Homo sapiens: one gene and its partner. The protein of the gene in region 2 interacts with the protein of the main gene of each other region in a pairwise test. Each region holds a gene or a part of one and is shown on either strand. Other genes may lie near its edges.

What was found.
Region 1: the proteins of BUD31 (region 2) and BEND5 interact in binary tests that used the Homo sapiens proteins (3 or more experiments, as listed by UniProt).

Annotation. Positions count from the first base shown.
Region 1 is NC_000001.11:48,770,656-48,785,837, forward strand, and holds the start of BEND5 (BEN domain-containing protein 5), read right to left. Parts: upstream 6,237-15,182; 5' UTR 6,177-6,236; coding exon 5,951-6,176; intron 5,507-5,950; exon of another isoform or gene 5,374-5,506; coding exon of another isoform or gene 5,310-5,373; intron 5,276-5,309; exon of another isoform or gene 2,405-5,275; intron 1-2,404. UniProt on the Homo sapiens protein: Acts as a transcriptional repressor.
Region 2 is NC_000007.14:99,401,387-99,416,423, reverse strand, and holds the start of BUD31 (protein BUD31 homolog), read right to left. Parts: upstream 7,456-15,037; 5' UTR 7,179-7,455; exon of another isoform or gene 7,160-7,178; intron 6,391-7,159; 5' UTR 6,255-6,390; intron 5,361-6,254; 5' UTR 5,332-5,360; coding exon 5,238-5,331; intron 4,480-5,237; exon of another isoform or gene 4,441-4,479; intron 4,236-4,440; exon of another isoform or gene 4,129-4,235; intron 2,447-4,128; exon of another isoform or gene 2,346-2,446; intron 287-2,345; coding exon 164-286; intron 1-163. Other genes in the region: PDAP1 (28 kDa heat- and acid-stable phosphoprotein), read left to right, coding at 7,876-7,888, 11,471-11,562, 12,919-13,026. UniProt on the Homo sapiens protein: Involved in the pre-mRNA splicing process. May play a role as regulator of AR transcriptional activity; may increase AR transcriptional activity.

The DNA of each region.
Region 1 (15,182 bases), on a different chromosome or scaffold from region 2:
TGTTCCATGGGCCCTTAAGATTCGACAGGTCTCAAGCTACTCATCATTTTCCCTTTCAACCAGCTACACTTCCAGGGTTCTCCTCGAGACAGGGAGGCCCAGATCACCACATCATCATCATACACATTATTACAACCAGTCAGTTACTAAGTCCCATGAATTAGTCCCTCCTTCCTTAAAATATCTCAGGTCCACCATGACCACCACCACCTTAGTTTAGGTCTCAGAATTTTGGACTGAACTGACTCATATTTATCCACAAGTCCAGTCCATGTGGGAAGACTTAGCCCACTGCCTGGCACCTACAGTGTTCACTAAACAACTGTTTGAATGGCTCTCTTTTCTTGGGTAAAACAAAAATCTCTATCTCACAAGGATGTAGAATATGTGCACTGAACCTGGAACCAGGTGAGTATTTATAACATATTTGGTAGGGAAACACAGTGCTTATTCCTCTTCCTGCATTTCCCTGGAGTATAAGACTGACCACCTAGTATAACTCAATACTTGTGGAACTTAAATCAACCAGAGAAAATGTCTCCAGATTACGAATGTTCTTCTGGTAGAAAGAGTACACACAACTTCTGTCCCTAAGGAGCTTATAAGACAAAGCAGGTAGGCACACTAGAAAGAGAATTGGTCTTGGTGTCAAAGACCCCAATCTGAATTCTGCTTTCTGGATGTGCTTTTAAAAATAAAAACTGGTGTGCTCTTGAACAGCAAAACACCACATAAAAAGCAACTTGCCTGGGACAATTTTTTATTTCTGCTTATGAACCAGAACTCTGAAGCACTCTGTAGCACATACTATTTAGCTGTAAAAATTGGTGGTTGTTGAACATGAGAAATCACATTAGACTGAACCCTCAATGGTTAACATCCCAGTAGAATCCGCAACAGATGACAGCAGGCAATTTCCAATCTTTGCTCCAATGTATATCAGCAAAACATGTCAAAACCTAAATTAAAAGTTTTCACTCACTTTTTTCAAGAAAATAAATCCTTTTGTTGGCAGTTTCCCACTGATGACACGCAACAATCTTTGCATATGAAATCGGCTAGTCCTCTGCTTCACTGCTAACTTTGTAGAAGTTCCAAAGCATTTCTGGAGCAAATGATCTATTTGGACTAACAATGCCAAGCTGGGACCTGAGCCCTGAATGAGCTAAAATTACCAAAGCAATAAGAACATGGCTTTGGAAGCTATTTCCCCCAAGTGTGGGGTTTCTTCTAGCTAGTTGAGGGAGTGATAAAGAATGTTGACTTCTTCCAGATGAACAAAGTTGAATGAAAACTTAAAATCCTACGGCAGGTTTCTGTTCTGAAAAACAAGCTGCTGCTGCAGAGGTTCCTATCTCCCCTATTTCCCTCTCCTCAAGCACAAAAATGCACCTGTCTTCCCAAAGTTGATGAGTTCAACATGGGCACACCAGTGCAGACTATATGCTGGGCACTGAGGATGCAGGCACAAGGAAGCCAGGCCCCTGTCCTAGAGGAGTTCCCTGTCAGGCAGGAAGAGAGGCACATTCATGACTAATAAAAACAAGACATAAAATGCTACAATCCATAAGCAAGGCAAAACCAAAGTGAAAAGAGAGTTCTGAGGAGGGAGAGAGTCTCTCTTGGGCGCAGAGGGAGGAATAGGGACTACCACTGAAGCAAGGTCTCCAAATGTACTTTGTCCACTCCTTTATCACAGGTGGAGGGGGGCTGGACCACAAACTTCTGTCACATGTCTACCTTCCCCACCTGTAGGTGAGCTCCTTGCAGGCAGAGGCCCCATATCAGACAATGATTAATCCACCTTGGCTGGCTCAAAGGAGTGCGAGAGAGTGTGTTCACAGAAGAGTAAAAAATACCATAGGTCTCAGGGAAAGGGGAAGAGAGAGTGAGGCTGGAGAAGTAAGGTGGGGCTGGGATAGAGCTGGTCTAAGGAGGGCTATGAATGCCAGGCTAAGAAACTAAAACTTTTTTCAGTAGGCAATAGGGAGCTACAGAAGGTTCTAATGAGAGCAGTCAACTAAGACTGTGTTTTAGAAGATTATTCTAAAAGCAATTGGGAAAATAGATCAGAGACATGGTAATCAATTAGAAGACTGCTTCAATAGTTTAGATAAGAGCTGATGCTGACCTGAATGCAGGCAGTGATGGTGGAGCTGGAAAAGAAAAACTTAAAAGATAAACTGCAAAGCCCACCTTGAATTGGTCCATTCTCTGTGTTTCCCCAGTGCCTGGCTTCTACCTTTATTTAGCACTTACTTTGAGGCCCCCAAATTACACACTCCCTGAGGATGATACCCATTTCTTTTCCATCACTCCCTCCCCCACAGAAATCCTACATAGCAGGACATGAAAAGTCAACGCCTGCCACCCCTGGGTCGTGCTGTCATTTCAATCACAGTACCTGAGATGCATAGGTGCACTGGTATATTCACTTAATACAGCACTGGGCCTGGCATACAGAAAGCAGTAAGGAGACATCTGAAACAAAAAAATTCAGCACACTCAAACAACAGTAACAGAGCACAGGTGCCTAGATAGAACAACTTAAAATTTTAGGGCTCTAGGCACAGAGAAACCAGTTTGAGCCTCCTAAAAAAAAAATAAAATTCAACACTATGAGCCCCAGTAGCAGGCTGGATTGCAGTTAGATGATGGTGAGCTCTCCAAATGAGTAGTTCTCACTTTCACAACCTGCTTGGCAAATAAATGAGAGTAAAGAGAGAACAGAGGTCAAAGGTGAGTCAAACTTTGAGTTATGTGGACCCTCCAAGAGGGACAGCCTTAGTGAAGATTTATTCAAGCAAATGCCAACTGAAGAGATAGGCGGGTGGGGGACAGCTGTGTGTGCTCTGTAAGAGGGAGGATGGTAATGGAGAAAGAGCAGAATGGGCTTGAAAACTCAGAAACTAAAATTATACTCTGGCTTGAAAACTTGCCTTGAGCTGTAAGCTTCATGGACAGTTTTTCCATTTCCTTTCACTCCTTCCAAATCATGCTGTGTAGCTGATGGGAACATCGGCTACTTTACAAAGGAGACTGCCAAGTGGGGGCCTGGCACTGGAAGACCTGTGTTCCAATTCCAGCCTTGCCATTTATTAGCTGTGTGGCTGTAGGCAAGTCTCTGAGCTTCGGTGTCCTCATCTATGAAATGGAAATACTAACCACAGCAATACCTACCAAAATGTCACTTAGAGGACTAACAGAGATAATGTGTAGGCATATAGCAAGACTATCAGGAAAGAAGGAGTTTTGTTTTTCCTTGAACTGGGATTGTAATTTGATAAGTAGTGGTATAAACCACCTACTATGGGCAGTAAAATGTAAAGTCCCACAGCAGTCGGCTTTGACATTTCCTGAGTATAAAAAGAAGTATACTTCAAGACAGCTCTGGGCTGGCTTGGGCCAACACTCAGTATAGCAACATACTTCTCACCAAAAGCCAGAAAGCTGTGCTGAAACTACCTTGGAAACCATTCTATTTGTGTCAGAGAGATTAATTAATCAATTAATAGCTAATCCACAAACATAAAGCCACCTCTGCTTCCCACTTGAGGGGATTCCTCCTCACACCTGGTGCCATAGCACAGTGGTATTTACATATAGGAGATGCCAGATGAGCTCTCTGAAGTCACTGTAAGCAATTCTCAGAGCCACCAAGTTTAAGTCAGGAAGGGGTTTGAAGATACATAGGAGTTATTCCAGGGTAATGAATTCCCGAACTCACCCTGGCCCTTCGATCAGGTCTCTATGCAGGGCAGTGGGTACCCAGGAGATCAAAATTCAAAATGTGGTTTGGCCAACTTCAAGTTGTTGTCTTTTTTTCCCCTTTCTCCTCCCAAGAAAAAAACTGAAGAGAGGTAAGGGGAAGTGTTTTTCAACTAATTCAAACTGGCACACTTCTTTGAACCTACTCTGCCAGTTTCCAAATGATGCTTGGGTTTTTTAAATAACCATACAGATTTATCAACATTCTAACTTGGAGGATGAACAGTCTACAGGTTCAAAATTCATGGTTCTCAAACCAACAGCTACATGTATCTTGCTTCTGAGGACTTGTGTCGATTTCAAAATCAGAGCTGGTGGGAGCTGCCATCTGCCTAAGTGGCCTCTCTGCAGTGCCTGAAGAGTCAAGCACAGTGTATATGTATGTTTGCTGAATGAATGAGTAGATGAATGAAACAATCTCCAAGAGAGGAAAACAGCCATTACACACTAAGAAACTTATCACTGACTCTCTTTAACACATCACTTCTACTCTCCTAGGACCCTTCCAGATCTAGGAGTACAATACAATCGTCAAGAAGCATGCATGCATTTTCTTCTAGCAAAAGGGAAGCTAAGGTTACAACCTAGTTATAACTTCCTCAAGCCTATCGTCTTGGGAAATAAATTCCTAATCCTTTCCCTCAGGTAATTAAAGGCAAGTAAGCAAACAAAATAAAACCTAATCAGCTATGAATGGTTCCCTTTTCTAAAATCTGCTTCCCCTCCCTCAGTTTCTTTGGCCCTAGGTGTCTGGCAGTGGGTGGGCCTACACTTCGGTGTGCCAGGGCTTATCAGGGAGGTGGTATGGATAGAGCCTGTCAAAAAGGGTCCAAGTGCTGCTGGTCAGTTTCCAGTTCTTCCACTCTTCAACTTCTGCAAACCGATTTTTCAGAGGCAACATGAGTTGTGAGACTGAGCTAACTTGCCATGAGACCCTGGGCAAGTCTCTATGGGTTGAGAGAATGTTGGGTTCATCTTTTAGGCTAAATGTGAGGAAGCAAAGGAACTTGAAAAAAATAGAGAAGGTCTCAAAATTACAAAACATCTTCATTCAGTCACTAACCCTTCGTGTTCTTTCTGGTAGAAGGCAGGAACACTATTTGCCCACTTTAAGGTTCATTCTCCTTACCAGCAGGAGCTAAAAAGGCTGCTCCCCAAAACGGAGATGATACTTCCCCCTTCCTTGCTTGTCTAGACTCAAACTTTCTGGAACTAGCTGGGAAAGAGGGCCAGCTGTCTTCTCTTTACAAAGGAAAAGGTGTCTCAGCATGGCAGGAAGAACTGGAGCATAGGAGGATAAAGGGCTGGTTTCTTTCCCTATCACCAACTGAACCTCAGTACCCTCATCTACGAAATGGAGATGAGACTAGCTGCCTTAGCCCATCTCTCAGGGCCCTGGCAGGGCAGGGATGAGAGGTCCAGTGTTATTCTGACCCAGAAACTCTCTCCTGGCCCTCAACTCTCTCATTCAGGGAGCCTTCTGGGAGATTCAGAAAGGGGTGTGGAGGCTGAGGGATGCCTTAGGGCCTCTACCTCCTTACCTCTGCCACCTGGCCAGGGAGGGGCAGGAGAGTGTGGTGTGGAGCCCAGTGCACTGAGGTTCATGGCCTCCTCATCCTGTCCAATGTTGGCCCGGATGGGACAAGGATGTCATAGCTTCCCTCTGTGAGGAGGGACTCCCACCTAGAAGATCTGACAATATCCTTCTTGCTCCTCACTCCAAGGAGGTACCAACAGCCTTTAAAGGGAGAGAGACAGACAGCTTGAGAAACTTAATTCTTGACAGAAAAGAACAGAGGGAAGGAACTGGGAGAGAGGTAAAGAGAAGGTGAGAGAGAAATGACGGTACAAACAGGTAGGGAGAAAAATGGAAAGTGAAGGAACGAAGAAAACACAAAGAATCAGAAAGAGGAGGACAGACACAGATGAAGAGATGAAGACGGACTGACAGCGCGGGAGCTTCGGGGAAGCGGGGAAGACAAAGGGGACCATCCGGTCTTTTTAACTGGCCTGGCCTCTTAGAGACACCCCGTTCCCAAATGAAATGCCCAGAGGACGGGAGAAGGAGGCAGGAAGGAGCAAGCAGTGGCTCCCCCCGGTCCCCTCCGCCCGGGCCCCCGGCCCCTCCCGGGGTCCCAGCCCCCGCCCGGGTCCCACCGTCCCTCCCCGCCCGCTTGCTCACCTGCCAGCGCCAGGATCTGGGCCTTGTGGAGCAACAGCGCGCCCCAGTCGCGGGGGGCGCGCGGGGGGCTCTCGGGCCCGGCGCCCAATTCCTCCGGGCCCCGGTACACGGCGTACACCTTCTGGTTGTCAAAATCCAGCCGCGAGCGGGGGCTGAAGTCGCGCACGCACGACACGGGCAGCGCGTAGCAGACGTTGTCCTCCAGGAACCGCACAAAGGCGTACATGGTGGGCGCCGGGGGCGGGCCCCGGTCGGGCAGCTCAGCCCGCGGGGCGGGCGCGGAGGTGGGGATCCGGCGGGGGGCGCGAGTCTCGCTACGGTGCTGGGGGGGGCGGGGGCGGCTCCCCAGGACCCAGGCTCCCCCCACTGTTATTGTTCCTGAAAGCACCGTTCTGCCAATCGGCTGCTTTCGCCTGGGCGCGGAAAAGGGAGGGAGGGGGGGAAAGGGGGACGAGGGGCGGATGAGGGGGGTTTGGAAGCGCACTGCCACTTGCAAAGTCAGACCCGAGCAATCACAGCCGGAGCGCGATTCGAATGGGGAGGGAAAAGGGTTCAGAGATTCAGTTGCAATAAAAATAATAACAAGAGCATTGCAGGAAAAAAATGCATTGATTAAAAGGTGCGCTGCGTGCAGGATTATATTGCTTCAACAATCGCGCTGCCAAATTGCATTGCAACAAAACTGCATTGCCAAGTAGAGAAGTGTATGAGTGAGTGAATGCGGGATAGGGGTGGGGGCAATCTTGATTGAATCTCAAAGTGTAAACTTGGAAGCCAGCAGAAGTTTGGAGTGTTTTAAATGTAGCCACCCTACCCGCGCCCCCAGCCCCGCACCCTCCCCGCGCCTTTCCCAGCCCTTAGTTTGGCCCCGCCTTTTCTTTGCTTTCTTTCTTTTTGTTTGTTTGTTTGTTTGTTTTGTTCTGCAAAACTGCCAGCTCCCTCTGTGGAAAGGGTCAGTCAGACAGAAAATTTCCCCTAGAGCTGCCAAACCAGTTCTGACCAGAACTGGGGCTTATCTGAGATTTCCAGTTGTGCCAGCTGGCTGGGGAGGTGGAAGGTTTGTCAAGGGCTGCTCTCATCTGAGGGAGCAGTGGCGCCCCTCTCCTCTATAGTCTTTCTCCATTGAGATACCCTCTCCACAGCACGCCCACCACTGAGCAGGGACAACTTGGAATCGCGGAGGGAGTTGAGGAGCGCTCTGGGTAACACAGGCCCAAGGCTAGGGATTTCTGGAGCACTTTGAAGAGTACAGGAATAGTACTCCATGGAATAGCGGTCTTTGCTCTGTCTCTTGCCAAAGAGAGCCTGGAGGGGCTTGGGTCCCCTCCAAGACAAGCCGTGAGGACCAGCCAAAGGGGGCTGATTGGGCTCTGTACTCATAGGAACCCTATCCCACATCAGAGGAGGTCAGTACCTTCACAGGGATGCCTCGTATCAAATATGGCTAGTTATATTTCTGTTGCCTAGCCAGACCTGGCACTTGACAGGGAGTTAATGAATTTTGGGTAAAGAAGAATAAATAAAAACCCACATCCATCCATCCATCCATCCATCCATCCATCCATCCATCCATCCAACCATCCATCCATCTGTTCATTCATTCCTTTATTCAAGCAACCAATATTCACTGAGTTTACACCACCTGCCAGATTCTGGGCCAGGTGCTGGTGATAGAAATGAAAAGATAAACACCTGGATTCTTGGGCCTTGCAAAGTCAGTGTACCAGAACTTGAATCTCAGTTTTGGGTTCCTGTGCCAAAATTAGGTAACTGTATGAATAACATACCTTTCCCATCCTCACAACCTTTACAATCTAGTCTAGGAGTATTAAAGAAGTATAAGCAAGTAATGACAGTATAATGAGAAAAGTATTGTCATAGAGGAATGCTTAATGGAGGTGTTGGACTCAATTAAATGTTATATTTTTAAAAATTCATCTTAATAAACTTTAGCTGTAAGAAAAAAACAGAATAAGTGCACCAAAATGTTAATAGTGATTTTTTTAGCTTCTTAGTAGTGGTAGATGATTTTGTTTTTCCTTGTATTCATTGTGTGTGTGTGTGTGTATGTAACTATTTTCCACAATGTTTTATTACTTTATCATCAGAAAACATCAAACATTATAAAATCAAAGCACTGTGCTCATATTTCACATCAGCTGCACTGACAATGAGGCAGATATTTATTTCACTGTGAAATAGACAGTGCGTTATATAAGTGAATCCCATCAACATATAGCTCTCATATCCAAATGTGTAGGTCAGTACAAATTTTTTTAAACCAACCCACTGGTTATGTGGTACAGCCAAAAATGACCACCACTTGTCCTGATGCAGCTGTTGGTCTTATCTTGCCCCACAAGCTTGTGGAAAAAAAAGGAGCCACTCTGAGTTGTTCCAGCACATTTACTGTCATGATTATGATTTCTTTGGACTGATCCTCAGTGAGTTTTTATTTTAAGAATACATTCCTATGGTGGTCAAGGGGAAGTAATGTGCAGCAAGACTTCTGATAATTCACAAGATGGATCATGCAGAGTTGGCCGTATTTAACAAAAGTCCTTGAAGCTCCGGACTATGTTCCCAAAATGATTTCAAGTAGCCAATGGCCAACCTCCTCTCTGCATCTAAATGGGGGTGACCACAAAACATTACCAATCTCATCTCTTACTACCTTCCCAGACACAGTACACTCCAGACACCTAAACTATTTGACATTTCCAAAGATAGCATGTTTTAGCAGGTCCCAAGCTTTTGTGCTTTTTCTGCCTTCATCCTGGGAAGTTCTTCCTTCCTCAACTTACCCTGAAAATCAGCTCAAATGTCATTGCCTTTGTGAAGCCTTTCCCAACCACCCACACTTTTCAAGGATAGCCTATCTCTTTCTACTACAATATTTTGTCCCAGCACTTTTTATCTTCCCTCACTAGAATAAGAGCTCTTTGAGGGGAGGCAAAGGCTGAGTAACTTTAGCATCCCAGGTACCTAGCACAGGGCTGGGGAGTAAATGTTTATAAAACAAATGTATTAAAGAAGGACATAAAGAGAGCATGAATAACAAACCTCTTGCACATTTTTTCTTGAAAGTCTGTTCCTCTCTTTTTTTTTTTTTTTTTTTTTTTCTTGAGACGGAGTTTCGCTCTTGTTGCCCAGGCTGGAGTGCAATGGCCTGGTCTCGGCTCACTGCCACTTCCACCTCCCAGGTTCAAGCGATTCTCCTGCCTCAGCCTCCCAAGTAGCTGGGATTACAGGTGCTCGCCACCACGCCTGGCTAATTTTTGTATTTTTAGTAGAGACGAGTTTTCACCATGTTGGTCAGGCTGGTCTCAAATTCCTGACCTCAGGCAATCCACCCTCCTCGGCCTCCCAATGTGCTGGGATTACAGATGTGAGCCACCGCGCCCGGCCTTTATTATTATTAATATTATTATTATTATTACACTTTAAGCTCTGGTATACATGTGCAAAACATGCAGGTTTGTTACATAGGTATACACATGCCATGATGGTTTGCTGCACTCATCAACTCATCAACTACATTAGGTATTTCTCCTAATGCTATCCCTCCCCTAGTCCCCCAGCCCCCCACCCCCCTACAGGCCCCGGTATGTGATGTTCCCCTCCCCGTATCTATGTGTTCTCATTGTTCACCTCCCACTTATGAGAGAGAATAGGACACAAACAAATGAAAAAACATTCCATGCTCATGGATAGGAAGAATCAATATTGTGAAAATGGTCATATTGCCCAAAGTAATTTATAGATTCAATGCTATCCCCATCAAGCTACCATTAACTTTCTTCACGGAATTAGAAAAAACTACTTTAAATTTCATATGGAACCAAAAAAGAGCCCATGTAGCCAACACAATCCTAAGCAAAAAGAACAAAACTGAGGCATCATGCTACCTGACTTCAAACCATACTAGAAGGCTACAGTAGCCAAAACAGCATAGTACTGGTACCAAAACAGGTATATAGACCAATGGAACAGAACAGAGGCCTCAGAAATAATGCCACACATCTACAACCATCTGATGTTTGACAAACCTGACAAAAACAAGCATTGGGGAAAGGATTCCCTGTTTAATAAATAGTGTTAGGAAAACTAGCTAGCCATATGCACAAAACTAAAACTGGACCCCCTCCTTACACCTTATACAAAAATTAACTCAAGATGGATTGAACACTTAAATGTAAGACCTAAAACCATAAAAACTCTAGAAGAAAACCTAGGTAATACCATTCAGGACATAGGCATGGGCAAAGACTTCATGACTAAAACACTAAAAGCAATGGCGACAAAAGCCAAAATTGACAAATGGGATCTAATTAAACTAAAGAGCTTCTGCATAGTCTGTTCCCCTTTTTAAGGGTTGATGCTGAATCCCAACTCTGCCTTTCCCATTCCCAGTGATCGAAGGGCAGAAGAACATTGATTCTACCACTTGTAAGACAGACACATTCATTAACATATTAAATATCACTGCACCCTGGGGTTCAAATTCCCTACCCATGTCACTGTAAATCATTCCTATAAGGAGGCAGTTCCATTTTCCGATAACCCAGAAAGAGGAAAAGAACAGACGATGGACCCGGATGCTGACAGAGTAAACACAGATCAAAACACATGTTTCATAGATCCACAGAATCGATTCTGGAGTAGTCATGACTGGCACGGGATGCTTAAAGAGATACCCTTGGACGGCACCAGAAAGACGTCAGTTCCTGCTTCCTGTGTGACTCACACATTCAGTCTATGGATACAGCTTAATGGAAAACCTACTATGTGCCATAGGGCGCCTCTTCCACCCTACTGAAAACTGAGCAACAGTACTTTGACCTGGAGACCATAGCCCTGGGCTTTACACATACCAGATACTCAAGATATTGATGATTCATTGACTGGTGAGCAAAGATAGTTTAAATACAGATTTCAGACTTAAAGAGGCAACTGCAAACTTCAAGTTTAACCAAATCATTGTTGAATCCCCTCTTCAATATTTCTGCCAAATGGGCATCTAGAACACCTTTTATACAGTTCTAATGCCAGGAAGCTTACTAGCTCCCCTTAACTTTTATACATTACCAAGTGTTAGAAAGGTCTTTTTTACTTGCACTGAGGTAGAATCTTTAACCTTATAGCAGCCATACTAGGTTCACCAAGACTCTCACGCCTGCCCTTCAGACATGGTGAAACTTGGAATCCTGTCTCCCAGCTCTTTGTCTTCTGCCCAAACATCTTCATTTCCTTCACCTGTCTCTCCTCATATGACCTGGTTTCAGTGATGATAATTGTAATACCTATTTTTTCTCTAAAGCTTATAAATCATGCATGCCAGGCGCTGTGTATACATGATCTCAATTACTTCACACCAAATTCTTCAGGTGGGTGTTATTAAACACATGATAGAGTTGAGAACATGGAGAACTATGGCAAAGCAGTTTGGCTCTGGGGAGCCCTGGAAGGCTTGTGGTTATATTTCAATTTTAGACAGTTTGCTCTAGAAACATTGTGGGGAAGGATTGGAGGGGACGCAAGTCTGGGGAGACAGAGGCCTGCGAAGACGCTGACTGTCCTGTCTCACCCCTCCCCCGACTCTCTTTTTCTGTGGGCCAAATGTGCTTTGCCTTTCATCCAAGTCATTTTAATGGAGCAGAAAATGTACACATCTGGGGCAGCTTTGCAACTGCATCTCCACTCCACTCTCCTGTTGAGTTTTGCAGAGCCTTGGGTTAATGTCAGGCTCCTTTGGTTTAGCCAGCTGAAGCATGTTCAGTGGCAGCAGTGGGACTTATGTTTCATATTACTACATGGAATTCTCAATGTAGTTTGCAAAACTATTTTTAAGGAGACCTGGGTTTTGTAAATTTTTAAAGCAATTGGAGCGTGCCTTTTCAACCTCTCTGCTAATGATTGACCACATTTTTTCATGATTTTGCCTTTTTTCCCTGTGATGTTTGATTAGACTTTTCAAGTCTCTGCTTTTTACATTTTTGAAAGACTTTTTAAATAGTAGTTTTAGGTTCATAGTAAAATTAAGAGGCAAGTACAGAAATTGCCTTCATACCTCCTATCACCCACACAGGTATAGCCTCCTTAATACCAACATCCCCCACCAGAGTGGTATATCTGTTGCAACTGATGAACCTACATTGACACATCATCATCACCCAAAGTCCACAGTTTACATTTGAGTTCACTCTTGGTGTACGTTCTATGACTTTGGACAAAAATATAATGGCATGTATCCACCATTATGGTATCATACAGACTAACTTCACTGTCTTAAAAATCCTCTGTGTTCCACCTATTTAGCCCACCTCAGCAGCCCCAACCCTTGCAACCACTGATCTTTTTACTGTCTCCATAGTTTTGCCTTTTCCAGAATGTCATATAGTTGGAATCATACACTATGTAGCCTTCTCAGATTGGCTTCTTTTACTTAATAATATGCATTTAAGATTTTTCCATGTTGTCTTATGGCCTTTTACATTTTTTAAATTTTCCTATTTTGCCCAGAAAAGTAATTTGCTGTGCTGCAAGCTGAGGGCCACTGTCTTCTCAGGTTGATTCAAGGAAGGAACGTTGATACATGGCCAGGAGGATCTGGAGCTACTGGGAGGCCTGTAGTGGGCATTATCCTGAGCTGTGTAGTCACACCATAAAGCAGGGGCATCAACCCAACTCATTCATATGCACTCCTGCTCATGAAGTCTGATTGAGTCTGCTTGTGGGATTTTGGGCAGGGGAAGAGAATAGCAATGCAGAGGGGGAAGGAAGCAAAGAGAGGAGCTGCATGTTGGGTACAGGCTTAAAGGCCAATGAACATCACCTGGATAAGTTATCCAGGTGAGACTTAGAGGGAATGTAAACTTGTCATGTAGATGACAGATTGGAGGGCCAAAGAAATGTGGGCTTAGGAATCAAACCAGTGGTTAAAACCTGACTTTGTTACATCTTTGCTGTAACTTTAGGCAAGACAATTCACCTCCATGAGCCTCAGCTTTCTCACCTGTGAAGGTGTTGTGAGACGTGGGCCAGGAATTTTCCACCCTTTCTGTGTATAAGGATCACCTTGGGAATTAAAAAATATTCCATCCCCAGGTCCTATCCCCTGAGACCCTGATTCAATTGGTTTGGGATGGGGCCTAGGCATTGATTTTTTTTGTTGTTTTTTAATTCCCAGAGTCTTCTAACATGAGACGAAGTTGAGCACCTCTGAGTTAGAAGATCTTAAGGTAACATGCCAAGCACACAGGAAATTCTCAACAAGTCATAAATATTATTATTTTCAGGAAAAATATATAGGGATCCTAAATGTCTATCTAACCTTGGGGAAGTCACTTAGCATCTCTGAGTTATGATTTCTTCATCTGAAAAATGACATGCCAATGTAAAAAGAAAACAGTATATTTAGTCTTAGGCTCTGGGTCCAAATCCTGGTCTGATAAGTAACGTCTATTCTTATGGTGTGGCCTTGGGTATGTTTCTTAATCTCTTCAAGCATCATTTTCTTCATAAGAATATTAATTCAACTTCACAGAGATGTTCTGAGGATTAAATGAGATAATCTATGTAAAATGCTTGGCACAGTGCCTGACACTGTGGTGAGTTCTCAGTAAATGATTGCTGCTGTTACTGTTAAAATAATTATTATAGTTATAATTATAAGAACACATATCCCCATTCTGACACAGAGTGGGGGTGTCCAATATATTTTTACTGAATCAAATTGAATATAACAGACTGAACAATGCTAATGATAATCCAACAAGCATCCTAGAATGATTCCCGCCAAATGCTGTCCCCTTCAATAAAACTCTGTGGTCATGGGTCACAGTCACTAAAGAAGCTCTCTAATTTCAAATGTTCAAGAGCCTCTGAGGCCACAGGGCTTGCCCAAACCTGCAGCAAATACTTCTGAAATACTGTGTTTGGGGCCATTCATTCTTTCAAACTGACTTTGTTGAGTATTTTTTTAAGAGAAGAAATAAAAACTTCTATGCATTATATAAAATGTAAAGTGTAGAAGCGTTTACAGCAATCTGAAGCCTTGTGGATGTGCACATTGGCTTGAAGTTCAGTTCAGGCAAACTGCAGTCAAATTCAACCATTCAGATCTCAGCTATCTTATGAGCTCATGTGGGTCACAAATGGAAATCATTGGTCAAACAAATGATCTGAATCCCAGCATTTTACTAGTAGTATAATATACTCTGCATAAGCAACAAAAAGTAAATAGATTCCCTGTGGTTAAAGATGAAAATAAATTTATTAATGTAAAAAATTGTCACAAAGAACCAACATTTGAATTCGTTTTGAAAAAGAAATGAAAAGATTGACCTACCTCGGAAAAATGCAACTCGCTTCTTGAAATTATGAATTTCAATTAGGGGCCAACTAGTTTGAGAAGTTGCCTCTGGTTTCCTTTATTAAATTAACTCATTCTGTAATTTTTCAGGTGAAATGTCACTTCCTCAGGAAAGTCCTCCCTGACTCACTCCTTCCATCCCCCTCCATAGACTAGCTCCAGTCCTTCTTACACACTTCCATGGCTTCTTATAGTTTTCTTCATGGAGTGTATCTTAGTATGTAATTATGTGTTTATTCTATTATGGTCTATCTCTGCCTATAGATCAAAGCTCCATTAGAGAAGTGACCATATCTGTTTTCTTCACTGTTGCATCCTTGTGCCTAACCTGGCACATGAGAAACCCTAAACAGACACTTGTTGAATGAGTGCATGTCTGAAAGGCAGACCCTAAAGAACCCCCCTACCCAGAGATGAGAGGCAACAGGTGTACGAAGGGCCATATTCTGTCCCTCTAAGTCTCATTTTCCTCTCTGTGTTTCTGTGCTTCCACCATGTCTGGCTCCTATCTGACTGGAACATCAATAAAAGCCTATTTCCCATTTTCCCTTAGCAACCACTGGATAGTTAACATTTTCAAAATGTTTTTCCAAATACGAGGAGAGAACAAAATGGAAATAAATAGAAAAATGATGTACACAGAAGAAAAATAGTCAAGTTGACAGTCACACATGGTGGTCATACACTAATCCTAATAATAACATAATAGTAGCAGGAACCTCATTGACACAGTCTCTGGGCCTTCCGGGAAACAAGATGGTGATTCTGCCTTATTCCACAAGGCTAGAGTTCTTTCTTATCCTGTTGTTGTTGGCTGGAAGTCACTGACTCTCTAACCCCCTACTTAGTTAAGGAGAA
Region 2 (15,037 bases):
AAAAACAAACACACACACAAAACTCAGCCAACGTTGGCTCCCCCTAATTTTCGTGGTAAGAAAAACCATGACTTGCACAGGTTGCGAGAATAAGGATTGTGGTTAGTTCAGTAACTCCAAAAGTGACGCGAGCTTCAAAGTCCAAGAGAGACTGACTAATTACCTCTGCTGATGGCTTTCCGCTTGTAAAAGAGGTCGAAGATGTAGCGGGTTTTCTGGTGGTGGATCCTGAAGATGGGCCACAGAGATTCCACTTTCCTCTTTCCCTCATGCGGTTCTGTTTCAGCTGGGGAGAAACAAAGAGTGTGTTTGGGGGAATAGGGTCGGTCTGCGCAGGATTTTCTTTTTGTAAGTAACTACTGATAATGAATAAATACCACTTTATACCCACTAGGATGGCTGTGGGTGGCAAGCCACCCAGGTGCCGAGGCAAGAAACCGAGGGCACGAGCTGTTCTAGTATAATAAAATAAATAAAATAAGAATAGTTATACTAGATATAGATCTTAGATATGATTATATATGAATATCATTAATCCTTAGTTTGTAGCAATTACTCTTTATTCCAATATTATAATAATCCTCACTCGACAATCATAACCTAGGAAACACCAGGCTATACAGAGATGGGAGCTGAGGGGACATAGTGAGAACTGACCAGAAAACGAGTGCAAGCCTTCTGTTATGCCCGGACAGGGCCACCAGAGGGCTCCTTGGTCTAGCGGTAACGCCAGCATCTGGGAAGATGCCCGTTGCCAAGCGGACCTTGGTCTAGCAGTAGCGTTAGTGTCAAGGAAAAACACCCGCTACTTAGCAGACCGGGAAAGGGAATCTCCCTTTCCCCGGGGGAGTTTAGAGAAGACTCTACTCCTCCACCTCTTGTGGAGGGCCTGACATCAGTCAGGCCCGCCCGCAGTTATCCAGAGGCCTAACTATCTCCCTGTGATGCTGTGCTTTGGTGGTCACGCTCCTAGTCCGCCTTCATGTTCCATCCTGTACACCTGGCTCTGCCTTTTAGATAACAATAGCAAATTAGTGAAAGTACTAAAAGTCTCTGATAAGCAGAAATAATGGCATAAGCTGTCTCTCTCTCTCTGCCTTGGTGCCAGGCAGGCAAGGGCCCGCTTTCCAGTGGACACGTGACCCATGTGGCCTTACCTATCATTGGAGATGGTTCACACTGCTTATCCTGCCCCTTTGTCTTGTATCCAATAAATATCAGTGCAGCCTGGCATTTGGGGCCACTACCGGTCTCCGCGTCTTGGTGGGATTCCCAGGCTCAGCTGTCTTTTATCTCTTTGTCTTGTGTCTTTATTTCTACGCTCTCTCGTCTCCACACACGGGGAGAAACCCACCGACCCTGTGGGGCTGGACCCTACAGATGACTATAATCAAAATTATGGCACAATAACAAGTGTTGGGAAGGATGTGGAGAAATTGGAACTCTCCTACGTTCCTGGTGGGAATGTAAAATGGTGGAGCCACTGCAGAAGAGTTAGGTGGCTCCTCAAGAAGTTAAACAGGGCTGGCCGGAATCGGTGGCTCACACCTGTAATCCCAGCACTTTGGGAGGCTGAGGTGGGCAGGTCACTTGAGGTCAGGAGTCTGAGACCAGCTTGGTCAACATGGTGAAACCCCATCTCTACTAAAAATACAAAAGAATTAGCAGGGCATGGTGGCGCATGCCTGTAATCCCACCTACTTGGGAGGCTGAGGTGGGAGAATCGTTTGAACCCAGAGGCGGAGGATGCAGTGAGCTGAGATCACACCACTGCACTCCAGCCTAGGCAACAAAGCAAGACTCCCGTCTCAAAAAAAGAAAAAAAAGGGAATGAAGTAAGTACTGATATATTCTACAACACAGATGAACCTTGAAACATCAAACTAACTGTGGCAATGGTCGTACAACTTTGTGAATATACTAAAAACCCCTTAATTGGATAATTTAACAGGTTCACTTTTACAGTATATGATTAATATCTCAATAAAGCTGTTATTTAAAAACAGAATAAGCCGCCGGGCATTTTGGGAGGCCAAGGTGGGCGGACCACGAGGTCAGGAGATCGAGATCAGCCTGACCAACGTGGTGAAACCCCATCACTACTAAAAATTAAAAAATTAGCCGGGCGTGGTAGTGCACGCTTGTAATCCCAGCTTCTCAAGAGGCTGAGGCAGGAGAATTGCCTGAACTCGGGAGGTACAGGTTGCAGTGAGCCAAGATCGCACCACTGCACTCCAGCGTGGGCAACAGTGTGAGATTCCGTCTCAAAAAAAAAAATAAAAAAATAAAAAATAAGCTAAGTAATTTAAACATAATTGTTTTAAATTAAAAATGTCTATTTTTGGATCCTTTTGTAATTCATGAGTGTGCTTGGGTGTTCACATCCATGTGTGAGACATGCCACTCTCAAACCTTGTCACAACGTTGGCACATTACCCATGTGACAAGAAAAAAAGTCTTTTTAATTACAGAATTAGAAAACATAGATTTTTAAAGACATTTAATGGTAACTTCTGTTAAAAGGTTGGTCCCGGCTGGGCACAGTGGCTCACGCCTGTAATCCCAGCACTTTTGGAGGCCGAGGTGGGTGGATCACTTGAGGTCAGGAGTTCGAGAACACCCTGGCCAACAGGGCAAAACACTGTCTCTACTGAAAATACAAAAATTATCTGGGCATGGTGGCACATGCCTGTAATCCCAGTTACTCGGGAGGCTGAGGCACGAGAAGTGCTTGAACCTGGGAAGCAGAGGTTGCAGTTAGCTGACATTGTGCCACTGCACTCCAGCCTGGATGACAGATGACCCTGTCTCAAAAAAAAACAAAACAAAACAAACAAAAAAAAGCCAAAAAACCAACCTTGGTCCCTATGCTTTCAGATCTATTTCTACAGCGTAATAATTAATCAAGATAATTCTAGGCCCACAGATGGGCATCCTAATCATCTTGAAGGCACTTCTAATTTCATCTCCCAGCCAAAGTCCTTTAGGGCTGAGGAAAAGCTAAATAAACTAGACCAGTCTACAGGTTCTGAGGGAAGTAGCCACAGCAGAAGCTGCTCCTTCAACACACGCAGGATCAGGTGGCACTCATACTTGCCGCAAGGCAGTTCTCTCTCTCTCAGCAGTCACAAGTTCATCTTTGTCTATGACCTCCTCAGTTTTTAGGGAAGAACAGAAGGGCGAAGAGTGGTCAAGAAGACTATCCCTCCCTGTCTCCAGCTTTTAAGCCATTCTATTACCTAGGAATTACAATTCAGCTCAACAAACAGAATGCTGTGATCCAAGCAGAAAAGCAGGTAGTAAAGATTCAGCAGGTACACATGTTAAGACGTGACTTGCTCCTCCTTGGCCTCTGCCATGATGGTGAGGCCTCTCCAACCACATGGAACGGTAAGTCCATTAGATCTCGTTCTTTCGTAAATTGCCCAGTCTCAGGTATGTCTATCAGTAGCGTGAAAATGGACTAACACACCCCCATCTCTACAAAAAATTAGCCAAGCGTTGGTCGGGCGCGGTGGCTCATGCTTGTAATCCTAGCACTTTGGGAGCCTGAGGCGGGTGGATCACAAGGTCAGGCGATCGAGACCATCCTGGCTAACATGGTGAAACCCCGTCTCTACTAAAAATACAAAAAAAAAAAAAAAATTAGCTGGGCATGGTGGCGGGCGCCTGTAGTCCCAGCTACTCCAGAGGCTGAGGCAGGAGAATGGTGTGGACCTGGGAGGCGGAGCTTGCAGTGAGCGGAGATCGCGCCACTGCACTCCAGCCTGGGTGACAGAGCGAGACTCCGTCTCAAAAAAAAAAAAAAGAAAAAAAAGAAAAGAAAACTTAGCCAAGCGTGGCAGTGGATGCCTGTAGTCCCAGCTGCCTGGGAGACTGAGGTGGGAGGAACACCTGAGCCTGGGAGGTGGAGGCTTCAGTGAGCTGTGATTGAACCACTGCACTCCAGCCTGGGCAACAAAGTGAGACCTTGTCTCAAAACAAAAACAAAAAGAAAACAGAACAAAGAATACTTCTGTCTGGAGGTAAAGAATATCTAAACACAAAGTAGGGTTCCTCCTTCCCTCAAAAGTCACCCTTTAGAAGATGAAGTTAATTTACTTTCAAGGACTTGCAAAATCTCTTCTATTCCAGCATGCTCCCATTTCCTTTATTTTGATAAAGAGCTGTTTCGGGAAGACATCTCTCAGCCCAAAATGACCGTGATTACTGCAATAGGCCCATCCAAATCTAAACTGCAAAACAAGTACTGAGTATTTAATAGAAGTTATCTGGTACGAACAGTTTTTTTAAAAAGGGGCAAAGTAATTTAACATTGATTTAATTTAGTAATTACTGCTGGAGGTACGACCTCATAATAACCATGATTAGGTTAGTTACAAGCAAGCATTTCAAAAGCTACTTTAAAAAGTAACTTCAGCTGGGTGTAGTGGCTCATACCTGTAATCCCATCACTTTGGGAGGCCGAGGTGGGTGGATCACTTGAGGCCAGGAGTTCGAGACCAGCCTGGCCAACATGGAGAAACCCATCTCTACTAAAAATACAAAAATTAGCCGGGCATGGTGGCGCATGCCTGTAATCCAAATTACTCGAGAGGCTGAGAGGCAGGAAAATCACTTGAACACGGGAGGCAGAGGTTGCAGTGAGCCGAGATCACGCCACTGCACTGCAGCCTGGAAGACAGAGCAAGACTCCAACTCAAAAAATAAAAATAAAAAAGTCAATTGGTAAGTGGCCACACTGTGATCATATAAGGCCAACAGATGCTTGTGGCTTCAGATAAAATTTCCAAAGACAGCATAGGACACGGGTTCACAAAGCAGGATCACACGCCATTTACAAGGAAGTGACAGAAAACAGATGCGGCAAAGACTAATCGATGATACTGAAAAGGAATAGCACTTCCAAGTAAATATATTTTGTATGATTTTAAATATATATCTAACCAAAATAGTAAATAACTATAGGTAGACTATTTGATCTATATTTCATAACCTTTTATATTCGAGTTGGCAAAAACAAAAACAAAAAAAAACACCTTTTCTGAGGACCTTTTCATTAATGTTATCTTATTTTCGGGCACTTACAGTATTTCCCCAAGTTCATAAGCAAACACAACATGTCAGTGTTAGTAGACCACTCTCTTTTTATATTTGCATTTATGCCTGTCCCCTGGGGGCATCTAAGCCTGTGACCCTTGGACCCAGCCCACCCAGACAGGAACTCCCCTACTCACCTTCTCTCATCTTTTGATCTAATTCATCCAGTGTTGGCTCAATCAACTCCCAGCCATCTGGGGGTGCTTTCCGGCTTCTTTTGACTTTAGGCATTTTCCTTCCACAGGATAATCTGCAAAGATCTGGGGGAAAAAAATGAATTGGTTTCTGAGTCTCAAATCCCCAAAGGCCTTTGCCAGCCATTATTTCGGTACAGGCTGACTTCCTTGAGTCAGCATAGGGTCACAGCTATGGGACAGGGCTCAGCACCCAGACTGTGTTCAAATCCTGGCTCTGCTACTTACCCGCTGTGATCTTCAGAAAGGTACTTAACCTTCCTAAGCCTCTGTTTCCTCATCTGTAAAATGGGGATAATGGAAGCTACCTTATGTGGTCATTGCAAAGACTTCATTAGAATTGTATCTATCATGCCTGGTGTATAATGTGTGCCTAAGAGACATTTGCTGTTGTCATTAGCTAACTTCAACTAAAAGCTTAACCCTATACTGGATGTTGGGAACACAGAACAAAAGTTAAGCCTTTGCCCCTTAGAAGGTGACATTTTAGCAAAGAGACAGACAAGAGAAAAAGCAATTACAATAGAGTATAAGGAGGGCTGTGACTCGGGGAGCCATGGGGGTGAGTATTTAAAAAGGCAAAGATGGAAGGTCAGGCACGGTGGCTCATGCCTGTAATTCTGGTCTTGGCCAGCACCTTGGGAGGCTGAGATGGGAGGATCACTTGAGCCCAGGAATTTGAGACCAGTCTGAGCAATGAGGTGAAACCCTATCTCTACCAAAAAAAAAAAAAAATCAAAAAAATTAACTGAGCATGGTGGTGGGTGCCTGTGGTCTGAGCTACACGGAAGGCTGAGGCAAGAGGATCACTTGAGCCCAGGAGGTTGAAAGTCTTCAGTTAGCCATGTTCACACTACTGCACTCCAGCCTAAGTGACGGAGTGAGACCATGTCTCAATAACAAACAAAACAAAACAAAACATAAAATAAAAAGGGAAAGATGACTGTAAAATCAAAGTACCTTAGGATGTGCTTTCCAAGAGTATAGACAGCAGAAAGATCTCTCGTCTCTGCAGTTGCAGGCTTGGATTCTTGTTCAGCTCTAAAAAATTATTCTGTGACTTTCAGGTCACCTTCCCTCTCTGGTCCTGTTTCTTCTGTAAAATGAGGGCAGTGGATTGGCTGATTGCCAAGGTCTCTTTCACACCAAACAACATATTACATAAAGTCAGGTAGTTCCCATACAAGAGGCCGATCCCAATCTAAATAGCAAAGCGTTTTTCAAACCACACAGCATTTCCTTGCTGCCAGAGAGAACCCAGGTTAAGTATTTACCTTTCAGCATAACAGATTCATCTCTCTCAAATTCATTCAGTCACTCCCTTCTGTACTGACACTTTACAAAGACCCACCCCCCCCCCGCCCACAGAGCCTCCTCTCATGAACTCTCTAAAACAACCATATAGAGGAGGAATCAAACTCTATAAGGTAGAATCAGGGTCACACAGCTGAGAATTTGCAAAACCTGACTCTGGAGGGCTCCTGACTCCCAAATCAGTGGTCTTCGCACTAGTCTCCCCTACGCTGAAGCTAAAAATAGGTGAATTCTGGTCTCGGCCCCAAGGCGCATAGTCTGTGACAAGAGAATGATCGCTTTTCTACGACCCAGGGAAATTCGAGGGCCCTGATCCAGCCTGGAAGTCAGAAGAGGCCTCTCGGAGGTGAAAATGGTAGGCGGTAACCAGATCGAGGAGAAAGAGGACGTAGGAGGTAATCAGATCGAGAAGAAAGATGTGCCGGGAGGTGTAAGAGAGATTGGGGCGCTAGGGGAAGGAGGCGAGGAGGAGCGAAGGAAGATAGTGCAGGATTGTAGGGAAAACTCATAAAAAGGACAGCATCTGAACCCAGCTTAGAAAAACAATCAGAACACAGAAGACGTTCCTACCAGAGGAAACGGCGCGAGAATCCTAGAGGAAAACCCCCAAATCTACCGTCCCCTCAGAAGAACGAACGTGGCGCCGCCTCCTCTCGGGAGCTCTCTCCGGCCTCAAGGTCCAAAGCCCGAACACATCCCAGTGGCTGGCTGAGAGTCCAGCCACTCATATCTCCCTCCAGGACGGTGCAGACCACCGGTCTCCCGCCTCAGCCGTTGCCAAGGTAATCGAGAACAGAGGGAAAACACATACCGGAAGCTCCTGGAGCTTGGGTAGCTGCTTCTCGACAGAAGGCTTCCGCTCTTCAGGCGATCTCTAAGGCATGAGGTCCTTGCGGAGCCCCGCCCTACCCGCGCGGAGATTGCGTCATCTTAGGTGTCCTCAGCAATGCCTGTATAGAATTCCAGAGCCGCTGTTGCCATTTGCCCTCACTTCCGGTGGGTGGCAGGCAGGGCCACGCGTCTTCCCGAACGGAGAGACTAGGGGCGTTGTTGCCTGGCAGCAGACGGGCAAGCCTGGACTTAGGCGGCGCGCAGGACGGTCCGACTTCGTGCGGAGGCCTCCCTGAGGTCCGGGTCCTTGCGGCCACTGCGGCCACTGAAGCGGCGGCGGCGGCTGGCCCAGGAGGAAGAAGTCGAGCCCAAGCTATTTCCGGTTCCGGTGTCAGTTCGAGGCGCCGCCGCCGCCGCCGCAGCCGCCGGAGCCGCAATGCCTAAAGGAGGTGAGGGGCGGGCGCCGGTGGCCCGCAGGCCTGGAGGGGCGGCCCAGGTCCGGCTTCCGCTGTCCCCTCAGCCCGTGCGCGTCTCTGAGAGCAGCGCAGAGGGAGGCTGTCCGCACCGGCTGAGAGCCAGGCCTGGGCCTCGACGCCCAATTGTCCCGATGGGGAAACTGAGGACTGTGGTGTCCCAGAGTCACTCCGTCAGTGGTCTGAGGAGTTTCGGAAGCTCTGGGTCCTCGCCGGCCTAGAAAGCCGGATCTAGGATGCGCTTCTCCGGGTCTAGGGGTTCTGGAATTTATCCCACTCTTTGGCTGGCTAGGAACTGAGTCACCGCGTCCCGCGCTTGTGCCGGGCCCGCCTGCCTCTCGCGTAAAACGTGGGCTTTTTCTGGCTTCGGTTCAGCCAGGCCTGCCTAGGAGGACTTAAGGAGATGCCCATGAGCCTTCCAGACCTGGTTTCGACTCCCCCGTTCGGTAGCGGCTCGGTGTGTTCCTTTGAGCCAGTCGCTCCACCTCCTGTGTCTCCGTTTTCTCATTTGCCAATGGGAATAACGATTGTACCTACCTCTTAGTACTGTTGGGAGGCTTCAACTAGGTAATCCACGTGGAGTGCGCAGTACAGTGCCAGGCAGTCGTTAAAAGTGCCCAGTGAAGCAGTAACTATTCTTATTTTTAAGGCTTTGCCAGCTCTTGATCTTGTAAGTAGGTTCATGACTGCCCAGTCCATTGTAGCCCGTCCTCTATCTTCTAGCCCGTTCTCTATCCTGTTTCCCCCTTTAGAATCGATAGTCCCCAGTTTGAATCCCAGCTATGTCACGTCTAATTCTGTGGCCCTGAACAAGTTAACCTCTTCCTCATCTGAAACACTGGGCTAATCCTTAGCTTGTTGAATTGGGGCCGGGGTGGTAAAATTATAGCGCTCATAAAGTGCCTGGCCACCTCCTGGCACAGAACAAATATATTTGTGTTGGTAGCTCATGTGTTATATTGGTTAATGCACTCAACCCACAGAAACATCTGCCTGTAGCGTTTTCAAACCTAAATCGCTTCCTGACTCCAGAGATAATTGGGCATTACAGAGCTAAATGTGTTTAAACCTAGCTCTCTACTGATTTATTCTGTGGCTGGAAAAGTCTCTCTGCTATTGTTCCCCAGTCCCTTCATCTGTAAAAGGAGGTTGCTGAATGAGCCATCCTCCCTCCGAAGTTTTACTTAATGGATACTTTGGGTAAAGGTTGGAGGTTACAACGATAAAACCTTAAATATGAATTCATAGCTAAATGGTCTTTGGGCTTGTGAAAAGCTTTTTGGGGTAGACAAGGTTTACATTTTCTTGGGTTAATCTGAAAACCACAAAAAACCGTGAAGGTGTTAAAAGTATCAAACTCCCTAAGAGCAAAGGACCAACGCTTGTTTCCATTATGTTAAGTGCAAATCGTTTTTTAAAGTCTTGAAGAGTCTACTATAAAATTACTGTGGACCAAGCTAAGGTCAGGGTCCCATAGCCAAGTGCATGAGAGGAGAGCCTATAGTAATCAATTTTGAGTTGTTACTGTTGCCTGGTGTATTAAGAGAGCAAGAAAGGGTGTTGGTTTTTTTCTTGGCACACTTGCTCTCTCACAATAGGACTTTAATAAGCATAGACTTAGACACCCCTGGGAACCTAGGTAGTCATTAAAAATGGGTGGTGTGATCTTTAGCAGCCCAATTATGGCTTTGCAGCTGCTGTAAGGAATCAGAGGAGGCCAGTATCTCTGCTACCGCCTCTGGAGTGCAGAGCAACTCTGGCTGATTACAGAGTCTCTGCTCACAGAGACAGACTATGGAAATCAGGTGGGCCTCAGCTTCCTGTGTGGAAGTTGAGGCCACAGCCACCCTTGCATACTTGGGGACCAGCAGAGGGGGATGCCACCTTGCTTTAAAACTGGCTGATGGCTTAAGCAAGGGTCAGCCTGGTGTTCTGGCTGAAGAGGGTCAGACTATAAAACTGACACTTTAACTGCTAGTCACATTTTTAACTTTTAGACTGTGTAGTCAGGTTTGTTTTCATCTGTACTTTGCCAGTCATTTCTTAGTCTAAGCACAAAGTTTTTGCCTGTAGGTTTGGGTTTCTTTTTTTTCCCTTAAGTATTCTCTTTTTGCCATACTACTAAGGTGAACACAAGGTATTTTATTGTGTTTCCAACATCTGCAGTAAATTGCTTATGTGCTCAGTGGTGCTTTTGTTGTTGTTTTTCCACCAAATACTAGATTAGAGGGAAAAGTAACGAACAGCGATTTTTTTATTTTTTTGAGACGGAGTCTCGCTCTGTGGCCCAGGCTGGAGTGCAGTGGCTCAATCTCGGCTACTGCAACCTCTGCCTCCTGGGTTCAAGCGATTCTCCTTTCTCAGCCTCCCAAGTAGCTGGGATTACAAACATGTGACACCATGCCCAGCTAATTTTTGTATTTTTAGTAGTGAGGGGGTTTCACCATGTTGACCAGGCTGGTCTTGAACTGGCCTCAAGTGATCTGCCCGCCTTGGCCTCCCAAAGTGCTGGGATTACAGGCATCAGCCACTGTGCCTGGATATTAGCGAACATTTTTGTAGTGCTTATTCAGTAGCAGGCACTGTTCCAGCAGCTTTCTGTATATTGATTAATTCATCTATCTTTGTGACAACCCTGTAAGGTAGGGACACAGATGAGGAAACTGAGACTGAGAGGTTAAATACCTGCCCAAAGTCATCAAGCCAGTAAGCGTAGAACCTGGGAGTTGGACTCTAAACTTCGTGGTGTTTCGCAGTCTGCTTTGGTCTAAGTCTCCTGGTCTATGAAATGGGACCAGCTATCACCCCTGTACCATAGGTTTGTTCCGAGGATCAACTGTGCCCCTGGCTGGCTGGGCGCGGTGGCTCACACCTGTAATCCCAGCACTTTGGGAGGCTGAGGTGGGCAGATCACGAGGTCAAGAGATCAAGACCATTCTAGCCAACCAACATGGTTAAACCCCATCTCTACTAAAAATAAATAAATAAGCTGGGCATAGTGGTGCACGCCTGTAGTCCCAGCTACTCGGGAGGCTGAGGCAGGAGAATCACTTCAACCAGGGTGGTGGAGGTTGCGGTGAGCCGAGATTGCGCCACTGCACTCCAGCTTGGGTGACAGAGCGAGACTCCGTCTCAAAAAAAAAAAAAAAAAAGTGCCCCTGGCTGTGACAGAACATCGTGTAAAAAGCCCTTATAGTGACGGCAGGGATGTAAGTGGTACATGTTTCTGTGGTTGCATCTGAGTCCACTATGCTTGGATTGTAAGGGACCAGGGGATGTAGCAAGTCATTGCAGTGCACCGTCCGCCATGTTCTCCCCTCCGGTCTTCTGTGTAGGAGCCAGCATTTAGTACACAGTTTGGTGATGCATCAGATGGTCACGAGTTGCTTCCTGCGTGCCTTTGAACACATGAGGGTGGCGGAGGTGTCGGTTTGGGTGGTGCTGGGTGAGGGGTAGGTGAGGCCTCCGATGAGAGTACTCCAAGCAGGACACAGCCCTCTGGGGGTCAGAGCAGTCAAGGCAGCTGCTTCCGCTCACCTAAACTGCGGGTCTCTGCAGGAAGAAAGGGAGGCCACAAAGGCCGGGCGAGGCAGTATACAAGCCCTGAGGAGATCGACGCGCAGCTGCAGGCTGAGAAGCAGAAGGCCAGGGTGAGTACGTGCCTGTCCAGGCCACGCCAGTGGCCCAGGGTGGCGCTTTGCCAATTTGGTTCATAGAGAGGCCAGGCAAGGACTACCCATTCGCAGGGACAAGCCAGCACGTGGGGGTCGGGCGGGCAGTGAGCCCCAGGTGTGAGTCTCAGAACAACCAATGACAGTCAGGGCGTGGGCATCCTCTGCCTGGATGGGTTAGAAAGAACTGTGGCTGCTCTGCAGCAGCTGCTTTAGTGGGGCCCTGTTCTTGGTCTTGTGCACCTACTTTCAGGAGGATCTCCCTCCTGCAGGACCTGTCCATTCACAGCTCGAGCTCCCAGCACCCCTGCTTGTCTGCTGCAGCCACACAGGATGATTTGCCACACTGCACATGACATATGCCCTGCCTTCCCACACCCCCAGCATCAGCATGCTCTCCATCCCTGGAGACGTTGTTTAGCCTCTCCTCCTCTGTGACTCATGCCTCACCTCCAGCCAGAGCTGATTTAGTAGTTCCCTCTCCTCTGCTCCCATAGTACATTGTCCAGGCCACCGTTAGGAAATAGAATACATTCCCATCGTCAGCATCTGCATCTTACCATATCATTAGATTGATGCCTGGATCAAGGGCCTAAGGGAGCAGTCAGGGCCAGATGGGTACACAGCTGTGACGTACCCCAGGAGTCTCAAGAAGGGAAAGGCCACATCCAGCTGTGGGGTCTGGGAGGGGTCCTTGGGGGAGCCAGCAGCTGAGCAGGACATGGAGAATGTGTGGGCAGGTGCCAAGAGGTGAAGGGACATGAGGTTCCTATAAGGGACATTTTTGGTGGGAAGGCAAGAAAGGTGGAGGGAAGCAGCCTTCCGAGGTGTTGTTCTGGGGAGCTGGTGCAGGAGGTCACCTGTGTGGGTGGGTCGGGGGGATGACTTGCCATGGAGTGGGAGTGGAGTGCGGAGAGGACTCGCCTGGGAATGCCAGCATGATTTGGCAGCTGCATGTGGCAGGTGGGAGCTGAGTAGGATGGTGGTTTTCAGCCTGGTGGCTGAGTCCTTCTGACCCCAGGAAACAAGCTTCTCACCCTGGCTGCTGAGGTGGCTGCGTTAGGAAGGGGAGCAGGGCCTTCTGTGGCTGTGTGAGGGGCTTCCTGGACTATGGGAATGGCCTCTAAGCTGTGGTGCTAAGTGCATAGGCTGCCTGTGTCTGGCCCAGGTCCCATTCCCTGGGGGCCAGGGTCACAGTAGGACCCTTGTCATCCTTGGTTCCAGCCTTCCAGAGGCTTGATTTCTCAAGATCCACAGTCTGGGGGGTGATAGGGTCACAGTCTTGGGGATTTGTTTTGCATTTTTGATTCTGCAGGTTGTCCATTTCTGAAACAGGAAGAAGAGGAGCAAAAAGAAGGTGGAGATGGGGCTGCAGGTGACCCCAAAAAGGAGAAGAAATCTCTAGACTCAGATGAGAGTGAGGATGAAGAAGATGACTACCAGGTACTGAGTTCTTTTGAGGGCCTAGAGCCTGGACTCATTCATTCAACAAACAAACGTTGAGTGACCGTTTAGTACTAGTCCCAAAGGTAGATGCAGACAACGTCCTTGCTCTTGAGGGTTTACACTACGGGAGATACAACAAAGAAGTAAACAGACAGTGTCATTTCAAGTAATGAGAAGTGTTACTAACAAAACAGACTGTGATTGAGGGGACTTGGAAAAGTGTTGTGGTGGTGAAGCAACTTATAAACTGAGATCTGAAAAAACAAGATGCAGCCAGCTATGTGAAAATTGGCGTGCAGAGCAATTGAGAAACTGGATTAGCAAGTGCAAAGGTCCTGTGGTGGGAATAAGCTTGGCATGTTCAAGGACCAGAAGGGGGCCAGTGTAGCTGTGAGTTAGTGGGTAAGGAGCGGAGTGGTCCAGATGCAGGAGGAGAATTGGCAAGGGCACCTCCTGTGTAGCTGTTGAAGGGGTTGGCATTTCTTTTCTTTTCTTTTCTTTTTTTTTTTTTTTTTTGAGATGAAGTGTCGCTTTGTCACTGAGGCTGGAGTGCAGTGGCACGATCTCAGCTCACTGCAACTTCCGCCTCCCAGGTTCAAGCGCTTCTGCCCCAGCCTCCTGAGTAGCTGGGACTACAGGCGCCTGCCACCACGCCGGGCTAATTTTTTGTATTTTTAGTAGAGACAGGGTTTCACTGTGTTAGCCAGAATGGTCTCCATCTCCTGACCTCGTGATCCACCCGCATCAGCCTCCCAAAGTACTGGGATTATAAGCGTGAGCCACTAGCCCAGCCCCCTTTTTTTTTTTTTTTTTTTTTTTTTGAGACAGGGTCTCGTTCTGTCACCCAGGCTGGAGTGGAGTGAAGCTGCAGTGAAGCACCGCAGCCTCAGCCTTCCAAGTAGCTGGGACCAAAGGCACACGCCACCACATCTACCTAATTTTTAAATTTTTTGTAGAGATAGGGATCTCACTATATTGCCCAGGTGGTCTCCAACTCCTGGGCTCAAGTAATCCTCCCACTTCACCCTCCTGAGGTGTTGAGATTGCAGCAGCATGAGCCACCATGCCTGGCATGGGGTTTCTTTATGGTAGGTAGTGGCAGCTGGGGGAGGCCTTGAAGGGATTGAGAGACATGACCAGATATGCTTTTTTTTTTTTTTTTTTTTGGGAGATGGAGTCTCTCTGTCGCCCAGGCTGGAGTGCAGTGGTGCGATCTCGGCTCACTGCAAGCTCCGCCTCCCGGGTTCAGGCCATTCTTCTGCCTCAGCCTTCCGAATAGCTGGGACTACCGTAGAGGTAGCGTTTCACCATGTCAGCCAGGATGGTCTCAATCTCCTGACCTCGTGATCTGCCTGCCTTGGCCTCTCAAAGGGCTGGGATTACAGGCGTGAGCCACTGCGCCCAGCCTCCAGATATGCTTTTAAAAGATTATTTTACTTTGGGAAGCCAAGGTGGGTGGATCACAAGGTCAGGAGATCGAGACCATCCTGGCTAACACAGTGAAACCCCGTCTCTACTAAAAATACAAAAATTAGCCAGGTGTGGTGGCAGGCGCCTGTAGTCCCAGCTACTTGGGAGGCTGAGGCAGGAGAATGGCGTGAACCCGGGAGGCGGAGTGCAGTGAGCCAAGACTATGCCACTGCACTCCAGCCTGGGCGACAGAGTGAGACTCCGTCTCAAAAAAAAAAAAAAAAGATTATTTTAGCTTCTTCATGGAGAGTGAATGATAGGATGTTGAGAGTAAGAGCAGTGTTCAGATCAGAAATCCTGGGCCGGGTGTGGTGGCTCACACCTGTAATCCCAGCACTTTGGGAGGCCAAGGCGGGCGGATCACCTGAGGTCGAGATTTCGAGACCAGCCTGACCAACATGGAGAAAACCTGTCTCTACTAAAAATACAAAATTAGTCGGGGGTGGTGGTTCATGCCTGTAATCCCAAATACTCAGGCTGAGGCAGGAGAATTGCTTGAACCCAGGAGACCGAGGTTGTGGTGAGCCGAGATTGTGCC